Linked DNA regions of Homo sapiens: region 1 is linked to region 2. The links come from fine-mapping of genetic effects on gene expression. A gene starts in region 2. The other region holds a variant in brackets. All regions are shown on one strand. Distances are from middle to middle. Region 1 has its middle 25 kb from the start of TAFA2. Region 2 holds the start of TAFA2 (TAFA chemokine like family member 2).

Region 1 (5,531 bases), 25 kb before region 2:
TATCCTCACCAGGATTTGGGGTTGTAATGTTTTGATTTTGACCATTCTTACAGGTGTGTAGTGGTATCTCATTATTGTTTTAGATATTTTTAAAAATTTTTTGTCTTGTTTTTTATATTTTATTTCTCATTTTATTAATTTGTAGTTTTTTCCTTTTTAGTAAGTGGGTGTAATTTTGTAATTTTTTAAAAGTAATGATTAGTTTTTAAAATGATTTTTCCTTTGAGTTTATTGTTTCCATTTCTTTCATTTGACTTTTACTTTGTTCTAGTTCTAACTTCATTAGGTTTTTTTTATTTGGTGGCTTGTTTCTGCCTCTAGTGAGGTTTTGCCTTTATTAAATAAAACAATTGCATCTGAGCAGTTGTTTTATTTTTGGTAACATTTCAATAATTTAGTTGTTTAAAAATGCTCCATAACTTTCTTCTAGATTTTTCCACTTCCCAAAATGTACTAGGTATTTTCAGTTTTCATCTTATATTCTCTTTGATCTGCTGATCACTGGGTTTAAAAATAGTTCATATCTACAGCTTAGCTTGTTGAGTATTTTCTGCAAAAGAATGAGATTTTGTGTTGTGTTTTAAAGGTAATGTGTTAGAATCATTTCTTTACTTTAACAACCTATTGAAAGAGGAACACTTGCAGATATAGTTATAACTTAATAGAAGGAGGCACAGTTTTCATGTACTGGGTGAGTGATTTATATTAAAAGCAGTTAGGTTATATAGTCAGTGATTTAATTGTAAATTTGGTGAGCAAATTCAACCCCTTATGACAAATAGTGCTTACAACTTTAAGTGAACAAACTTTTCTTTAGAAAATAAGTTTCTTTTATAACAAACACCCAATTTCAAAGGTTCAATTCAACAAGACTTGGAATTTTCTATTAAAATTAACTTTTGATTATTATCGAATAACTTCATCCTTGGTATACAAAAATTCAGGTTTATGTGATTTAGACTAACTGTAGATTTAATTTAAATTCTGGGGTTGCTGTGTGTAAATATTCTCTAACCTTCTCCTGTATCTGCCAATGCTTTGCATTTCCAAAAGCACTTGTGTTAGCAACTTCTTCAAGTTTTCTATTAAAGACTAATAAAATTGTGACCTATGATTTCATTTACAGTTTTAACCGAAGCTAATTTTTCATCTCTACACTTTAAGTAATTTCACAGATGAATTTCTCTTAGTTTTGTTTTTGAATTCTTTTATGTTAACCTAAGTTTTTTTTTTCAAAGCTGGAGCATATTTTTATTCATCAATTTGCAGAGATATAATCTTACTGTGAGAAACTTAAGTTGTTTTGTGTGTTTTCAAAAATGTTTTCCCACTAAATTTTCTTTTGCTATATTCTCCCTGGTATGTTATTCATTGTCAGTAATTAAAATGCTATTTTGTCCTCATCTTTTCTAATTATGTGTAAATTACAGTTTTCTTATATTGTCATTTTAATTCTATCATCTCAAATCCAAAATGTCATAATGTCTAGCTACTTTGCAAGTATGATATTATTGAATCTCCTATGTAAATGTGTAACAGCCTGAAAAATGTCCTTCAGAATATCTTTGGTAAATAGAAAACTATTCCAATTTAAATGTCCTTTAGATATCTACTCTGATTATCACTGATTTATTGACTTTGTGACTTGCAATGAGAAAGCAACAAAAAAAAAGAGAAAGAAAATAAATGGCTATGTATAATATTATATCCAAGAATATCTGAAACATCTATTTCATTCATAGATTTAAAGCTATAAAGATCGTAAAGATAGTAGTACTATATTATAAAATATAGAGCTGTGCTTGACATATTGTAGGTGCTAAATAAATATTTATTAAATGAGTGAATGAAATTCAGAATTTTCACAGGAGGCAAACACAGTACGGGTTGGGTTAGGATATTTAGCTTTTTCTTTGCTGAATAGCAAATTGTGGTAGTTCTCCAGGCTAACATTATCCCTCACTTTGATAACTAGGGATGTGAGCCTACCCAACTGATCACATACTAGCATTTCAAGTAATAGGGGATGTGTTCATCAGACACGGGTAGGAGAGACTCTTTTCCTTTCCTTCCCTCATTTCCTTTCTTCCACTGTTTTTTCTTTACAAATTAAAATTCAGGCCAGGTGCAGTGGCTCACTCCTGTAATCCCAGCACTTTGGGAGGCTGAGCGGGGAGGATTGCTTGAGTTTAGGGGTTCAAGACCAGCCTGGGCAACATAGTAAGACCTCATCTCTACTAAAAATTTAAAAAGTTAGCCCGGTGTGACGGTGCGTGCCTGTAGTCCCAGCTACTTGGGAGACTGAAGTGGGAGGATCTATTGAGCCCAGGAGGCTGAGGCTGCAGTGAGCTATGATCGCATCACTGCAGTCCAGCCAGGGCAACAGAGTGAGACCCTGTCTCAAAAATAAATAAATAAATAAATAAATAAATAAATAAATAAATAAATACATACATAAAAATAGATAAATTCAATCAGCATTAGTTTTGAAAAGTTCAGAAGTAAAACTTTTTTCTCCTGGCTCATTTTCACTTACTCAACTCAATAGCATTTTGGTAAGTACCCATCTCAGGTATGTTTGCTTGGGAAAAAAGATTCTAAGATGCAAATTTGTCTGAAAGAAGTTTACTGAAGAATGTCCTTGGGATCGATATCTGTGAGAGAGCAGAGGAAGTAAGAATATTCATGGGAGAGCTGAGCTGTGATGCAATTGTGATAATGGCTTCAGCCACCTCGAGGGAAGCTCTGGAACAGGTATGGCCCTTCAGAGTTGGCCTACTTTGAAGGAAGGGCTGGGCCTTATAACTTTACATCTGGATCAGTCACTGAAAATGAGCTTCCCTCTGGAAAGGGACTTGATCTTGGGCAAGAGGCTTTCTTCAGCTGACTTGGGCAGCTCTGGGAGAACCTACCTCATAACAGACAGTTTTAGTCCATTAATCACTTGATCTTCTGTAATTAGACTCTTTGTCTTTTCTCTCTGTCTACCAGGGCCCAGTTGCACTGCAGAGAGCTTTTATTTTAAAAAATGGTGTGTAACTCCTTACTTCAGATGGAGTGGTTTGATCCAGAATCCTAGGTATTTACATTGTGGTTTTACTTTAGGGCCTTGCCATAAACTCCACATATTATCTTTTCCTATTACTGATGCTTTTCATACTGAAAGGTCTGCTGGATCATATGGCCCAAGTACTCCCTGTACCTGCTGCAGGGCTGTCTGCTGCTTTGGACCCCACTCAAAGCTTGTAGCCTTTCATGCTATCTAGAGGGTGGGTAAAAGCAGTATTTGCCAATATGTAATATGTTAAACATGTTAGCCAAAGAGGAATACCAGAA[T/C]ACCAGGCATGGTGCTTCCCTTTTTGCGGAGAGACATATAAGATACAATAATTTGTTTCATTTAGAGAGGATGTCGCAGCTTGTACCAGATCACTGGACTCCCATATACTACCTACATGGCATTTCCCTGAACCCTTATAGGGTTTAGCTCCCGCACTCTGGAATGCATATGGTATACCGTAATGTATATGCTAACTTCTTGCTTGTCTAGTCCAATTAATATGGTACCACTGAAATAGTGAACCAATGCTATGTTTTGACAAATGACCAGTTCGGGCATCTTTGAAATACATTATGTCAGAGGGCAAAAGAATTAACCTAGCTTTGGGTAAGACTGTAAACATATACACCTATCTGTTTCAAGTGAATTCAAACCATTTCTGATCTTTCCAATAAGATTGGAAAATAAAGCGTTTTTCAGATCAACAATAGTATACTGTGTATTAAGAATTTGTGGTAATCTGCTCTAGCAAAGAAGCCACATCTGGGACAACATCTATAGTTGGAACTACTTTTCTGATCGAGTTTGCCTTACTTTACTGTCATTCTCCAAGATATGTCTGTTTTTTGTAGGGTCCTTGCTGGTCAGTTGAAAGGGAATAGGATGAAAATCAGCAACCAAATATTATGTAGGTTTTTAAAGGTGTCATTAATCTCTGCCACCACTTCCCCAATACCCACACTAACAAACAGATGAAATGCTGTTTGTTAAAATTTACTGTCTTGGGAAGGAGCAGTTTCAGAGTTTAAAATTACCTTTCTCTACTATATGGGTCTTATTCCACAGTCTAAGGTACCAACATGGGGGTTCTGCTAATTACCAAGCATGTCCACTATTGTTATTCAATTAGCAATGGCAGTAGTGACTACTGGATAGGTGTGTGGACCCGCAATTGGATAGCACTTGGCCAGACTCCATTTGTTACTTTACCCCCATATGCTGGTTCTCTAACAGAGGAATGTAATGATGCTTTAGTGTCAACTCAGACTCTGTGTCCAAAAGTCCTTGAAACATTTGGGTATTTTCTTAGTTGAGAAAATGGCTTTTGGTACTGTCCCCTTGGGGAAGGATTGAGGAAACTGTTACTTTATTCACTTGCCATGGTGATACAGGGTCTCTAGAAACCCCATCTTTTGATGGGCAAAACCCACTGGTCTTTACAAATAGCAATTCTTATAAAATTTCATTTGATGCTCATGACAACCATTATCATTAGAGTAGCTGCTATTATATAAGAGCTCTCTGTCTACAAATAAGAAACCAAGATTCAGGGAGTTTAGGTCACACAAAATGTAACTTGCAAGTGTCATATCTCTTTTTTTTTTTTTTTTTGAGAAACAAGTTGTTTCTCTTAAGCAAGAGAAACAAGTTGTTTCTCTTAAGCAAGAGAAACAAGTTCTTCCTCTTAAGCAAGAAAAACAAGTTCTTCCTCTTGTTTTTTTTTTTTTTTGATAAACGAGTTGTTTCTCTTAAGCAAGAGAAACAAGTTCTTCCGCCCCTTTTTTTTTTTTTTTTGAAAGACAAGTTCTTTCTTTTTTCCAGCAGAGACTGTGGCTGCAGTAAATTTTCCCTGAGTAAGATTGTACTTATTTAATTTTTTGTGTCTAAAAAGCAGAGTTGAATAGCAAGAGCTTGGTGAAAATGTCAGTACTTCCCCAGGCTATGAGATGTTCTGGAAAATTTGTTATTCTTGTATCCTATTACCTTGCCTTTTCCCATTTCAGGTTATTCCTACTGTTGGAGCAACTACTGAGAAGGGAAAACTCAAATGATTTAGAGATAAGACACACAGGGCTGCTTTTGGTGACTGCACATCTGCATTCAATTAATAAACAATTTGTGAAAAATTGACTTACCAATAACCCAAAATGTGAACAAGTAGACATTGACTTTTGTTCTTCAATTCCAAAACCTGGAGGTATGATTGTCTTGGAAAGTTTTGGTCTCTTATGAGGATATACAGAGATAGCTTGTGCAAAAGTAATGATTTCACTTCTTAGTACTCTCTCTTAGGTGAGAGTTGCACAACTTCCTTTTCTCTCTAGTCTGGCCCCTTTGAGTCAGGAGAGTGGGTCTCAGAATTGGTGCAGGGATGTAAGTAGAAATGGTTATCAAAATAAATGGAGCCTTTAAAGATAGTATCTCTAGAGTGGTATCCCTTCTTATCACTGCTTTGAGGCATATTATATTAGAA
Region 2 (5,000 bases):
TTTAAGAAATATATTTTGCTAGGCTACATCTGTCATAGATAATGATTCCTCTGATGGATCTGGGCAAAGTAAATTGAAAAGCTTCTGGAGATCATTCACCATTCTAGATGCTAGAAGAGTTGCTTCTGTGGATGAGCAAAGTAGTTTTTTTTGAGATGGAATTTACTCATGGTGAAGATGCTGTGAATATTGTTGAAATGACAACAAAGGATTTTGAATATTTTATAAACCTGACTGATAAAGCAGTGGCAGAGTTGAGAGGACTAACTCCAATTTTGAAAGAAGTTCTACTGTGGATAAAATGCTATCAAGCAGCATTGCATGTTACAGAGAAATCTTTTGTGAAAGGAAGAGTCAATTGACACAGCAAACCTCATTATTGTCTTATTTTAAGAAATCGCCACAGCAATTCCAACCTTCAGCAACCACTACCCTGATCCATCAGCAGCCATCAACACTGAAACAAGACTCTCCATCAGCAAAGAGATTAGGAATCACTGAAGGCTCAGATCATCAGTACACTTTTTTTAAAAAAAGCATTAAACCATTTTCAAGGTAAGATATGTACATTTTTAAGACAAAATGCTATTGCATACCTAATGGACTGCAGTATGGTGTAAACATAACTTTCACATGTGTTGAGAAACCAAAAAAATTGTGTGACTCACTTTATTGCAATATTTGTGGTGGTTTGGAACCAAACCTGCAACATTTTTGAGGCATGCCTGTAGAAGGTAAGAAGTATCAACAAAAAATTTCTGTTAAATTAGGAGAATCTTTACTACTTTGTTTCCTTTGAAGAGAATGCAAAAGATTTTATTTTGTCTAGGAGATGCTGGAAATAGGAATATCTTGATCTAAAAATTATTGGGAATTATTTACAAAAAGCACAGAGGTTATGATAGAATTTCAGCATCATATGACATTGGATAAGAAATTTTGTTCTATTTTGTAATTAATTTATATATCTGTTCTCTTTACTTTTTCATATATTGTAAAAACACAGTGGGTTTAGTTAGAAAAATAAGGCTGAAAATGTCCCACACTTAAACAATACAAATAAAATTTTAACAAGATGACAAAACTATAGATTACAACCACAAAAAGTTAATGAATTAGAAGGTAGAAAGATTATAATGTATGCTTTATGTTTTTTTGTATGTGTGTGTGTGTGTGTGTGTGTGTGAAAAGAAAGCCAATGTTCTAAAGTGATTTTGTAAGTGACTTCTTTCTAGTACAGAGTCCAAGTTTCCAATGTCATTCCTGCTTGAATTTCATCACACTATTGAACACAGCAGACAAAAAAATACTGTAAGATTTGCAGTGCAACAGTGCCAGGTGTTTTAAAATGTAAACGTTGCTTTCCTGGATATAAGTTACTATGTAAGTGGAATGAAATATTTAATCACATGGCATAAATCTTTTGAAAGAGACTATCTGAGAGATCCTTGGAAACAAATGATTGCTGTATACTACTAGACAAAGTCAAATATGCCATAGAGCAATTAGTTACGGTAAAACTTGCCTTGTTTAGTTTTGGTGCTTTGTTTTAAATGATTTCAACTAGTCTCAGCTATTTAAAAAATACATTCTTTTCTTTCTTTATGACTGTGCTAATTTAGATTATCAAGTTAAAATAGAACTGCTCCAGAAATTCAGAGTGAATGGAAGGGTGTTTAATAATAACTTTAATACACATTTTACAATTTTTGAACATACAGAAACATTTTGAAAGCAAACCCCCAGCTCAAATAGTAAGTTCACAAAAATCTAAATGTTAAGGTTACAGATGGGACCTAGCTTGATTTGGACTGATGTAACAAAACTTTATAAAATCGGTGGAGCTATTTTTTATAAAAATGACCACCTCAACATAATTAAATTACTTGATGCATTTTAGATACAAAATATGGTTGATTTACTAAGCATGTTAAGATAAAATAGCTAAGTGAAGCACATATTCTATATTTCTTTGTAAATATGGTATGTAGTATTACTTTTATTTTATAGCTGGTGAAGAGAGCTTGTGATACCTAATTTGTCAATGGTTTCAGTGAATCACAGCTATATAAAAGCACAGACCTTTAGAGCTGGAAGGAATTTAGCTATCTTGACCATTATTGGTCTAGTTGAAAAAGAGGTATGAAAACTGGCTCCAAAACCAGATTCTTGAGTTATCTTTCCTTGTAAAGGACTTGTAAAATTTCCTGGGTCAGCATTCCCTTTCTTTGTTTCAGATTTTCTTTTTCTGAATTCATTCTTACTAATTATTCATTTTTGAATAGTCTTCTAATCACTAGATTAAGGTTTTGCTCATCTCCAAACATGATCGAAGTGAGCCTCAGAAGACCCTTCATTTGAGCTCATATGCACAGCGCTTAAACCGACACCCAATTTGACCAAACATGTAAGGACATGACCTTCCAGCGTCATGAATATCACGACGTTCCTTTAGCAAGGGCTTTGCTTAATAGGGCTGCAGTGAAAATCCTCCGTCTAAATCCTTGAGAAGTTGTAATTTGTAAAAATGCAAATTATCTGAAACCAGATATTTTTTTCTTTTTCTTTATGGAGAGAAACTGGTCTGTTACATCTAGTAAAGCGTTCTAATCCGGTTGACCCTCTAGAGGGAGACATAGTCCAGCTTTTATACCAGTTGCCTCCTCATCTTTTACTGTCTCGTTCTTTTTCTGCAGGACCGTTGTTTGCTCTCAACGGCAGTTGCTGGGGCTAACAGAACTGGCTGTTGGGAGAGAGAGGCGAGGCAACGCCGCCCGGCCCTGCCATTCCATTTTACTGCTTAACTCAACCTGGAGTGTCAGGACCTATTCTCCTGCATTCTCGCTGCACTATACGGGGGAGCCAAGTCACTCTGTACTCACTGGACAGCCAGGCTGGGTGGAATAGGGTTCTAGAGTGGAGCAGGGGCTCTGCCCTTTATGGCGACTTTCTAAAAGATTAGCATCAGTGTCTTTTGACAGTATAGCATCTGGGGTGGGACGCGGAGAGGAGGCTTTGCTTGCTAAACGGCTTCTTTCTCCGCCGGTGATCTGGATTTGTTTCCTCGGCCCCCTCCCCCCGCTCCTTTCTTTCTCCCCTCCCGCCTTTAGCAAAGTGACACAGGCGACACCTGCTCGCTTGTGTTCGATGTTGGAACTCGCACCTCCTCGGTGGTGACGGTGCCAGGGCACTGCTACCAGGGGGACATCGGCGGGTTTCCCTTCCTTCCAGCCCACGATGCCTAGAAGGGCAGCGGGTGGGCTGCGTGGGGCTCTGCCCGCAGCACTTCGAGGCGGGATTGAGGGGCTGAAGCTGGCCAGGAGTTGCTGCTAAGTGGATTCGAGTGGAAGGCGCCAAGTCTCCGCGAGGGCACCAGCGGGGACCTATCTGCGAGCAGTGGGAACAGGGGCACCTGGACGGAGGAACGCGGGCGTCTGGAGGGGGGACATCGGCTGAGCTCAGAGCCTCTCCTCCTTCCTGTCCCGAGCTTCCCAGCAACTCCGCCACGTTGGAGACCCGGTACCTGCGAGAGCCAGGGAACTCGAGAAGTGCGTGGCCGAGGCTGCTTTCCTGAAGGTGAATCATTCTGTCCAATTGCCTTTCCCCAGAGAACAAGAGGGAGGGCGGGAGAGAGGGAACGGAGGATGTGTGAGTGTGTGTGTGTGTGAGAGGGAGAGACGACGTGAGGCGAGAGGAAAAGTCTTTAGTCGGCCTTAAAAGCAAACAAATCAGAGATGGAATAAGAGCGGTAATTGCAGCAAGACCGCCTTGATTCTTGCAGTCCAGGGAGCTGAGCGCACCGCGCGCATCCGGCGAGGACAGGAGGCGACCGCGGGCGCTGCCAAGGGCTGCGGGACTTTGGCTTTTCCTCAGTAAACAAATCTTTTGATTACTTTGACACTGTGGAATAAAGAAGCGGGGAGAAGGATCAGGCTCACCTTCACCCGCTTCAGGGGGATTCCAGCTTGGATGTCAGATTCCTGAACCGTCTTTGCCATCGGAGGAGGAAACACATCCACACACGCGCGCGCACACTCGCACGCTCAGGGCCACACTCACACGCCGCCCTCCACGATCACACAGCACCAGACTTCGGTTCCCTATGCCCCTGGATGGTGACGGCGGATTGGCATCTTGGAAGCGATGCGAGAGCGATAAGGCTGGCGCCGGCCCGCAAAAGCTGCAGGAGCATCGCTAGGTGTTGCCGCCACCGGGAAGCGGGGCTGCAGGTAGGTGCGAGCCGCGCCTCGGGTCGCCGGCCAGCGCTGGGGACCGGAGCGGCAACTGCAGGACCGCGGTCCCGGAAGCCCCCGTGTGCACACGTCTCCCTTCCCCTTTCTCGGGGGTCCGGGACTGTAGAGGGATCGCCCGGGGAAGGCGAGAGGTGAGGGCAGATGCGGGTCCATCGGCCGGCGTCTCCCTCGCGGGCGGTCAGGGTAGGGGCGGAGTAGAGGGACGCCGAGAGGGGATCGGAGCATGCGAAATGAGGCTCCGTGAGCGGTGCCCTCCCTCTCTGCCCCATTTCTCCTAATAACAGCAAACGACCAGGTCGAGGATTGAAGTGGGTTGTAATTCGATTCCTCACCCAGACCCATCCTGGCTGGTAACCATTTTGGACTCTTAATAAGGAGTTGGGGGTCGCATTCCAGGGAAGATCAATGGGATGTGTCAGGTCATCTTTCTGAAATCCCTACTTTTTGTCCACTTCTGATTAGTTAATTCTCAGGCCTGTTTGCAGAAGGTGGGTGTTTCAGCGAGTCTATTGATTTATCCACCTCTAACTATCTTCATAAAGAATCAAGCTGATAATTTCCGGAGCCTCATCTATGTAAGGTTTATTTAGATTTGGGACGGGGCGCTTTCTTACTGAATGAAATAAAGCTTTTGTAAAGGCTACTACAAGAGAGCTTTAGTAAATGATTCTCTTAACGAACAGCGTTCAGAATAAGAATGGCTTCGGGAAACTAATGGTTTTTTATTTCTTTCCGGTTAGATGTCTC

Evidence for each region. PIP is the estimated chance that this variant, and not a neighbour inherited with it, causes the effect.
Region 1: its variant is fine-mapped to the expression of TAFA2 in whole blood (INTERVAL, PIP above 0.99). The same link has a PIP of 0.9 or more in monocytes.

The regions. Positions count from the first base shown.
Region 1 is chr12:62,214,885-62,220,415 of GRCh38, reverse strand. It overlaps a transcript of TAFA2 not described here. Among named protein-coding and RNA genes, the nearest start is that of TAFA2, 25 kb to the right of the region's middle. The variant T/C (reference allele first, on the strand shown) is at 3,337.
Region 2 is chr12:62,190,488-62,195,487 of GRCh38, reverse strand. TAFA2 (TAFA chemokine like family member 2) reads left to right here and starts at 2,715. Exons shown (of 5, transcript NM_178539.5): 1 at 2,715-4,229. RefSeq lists a silencer at 1,126-1,420 and an enhancer at 2,790-3,323.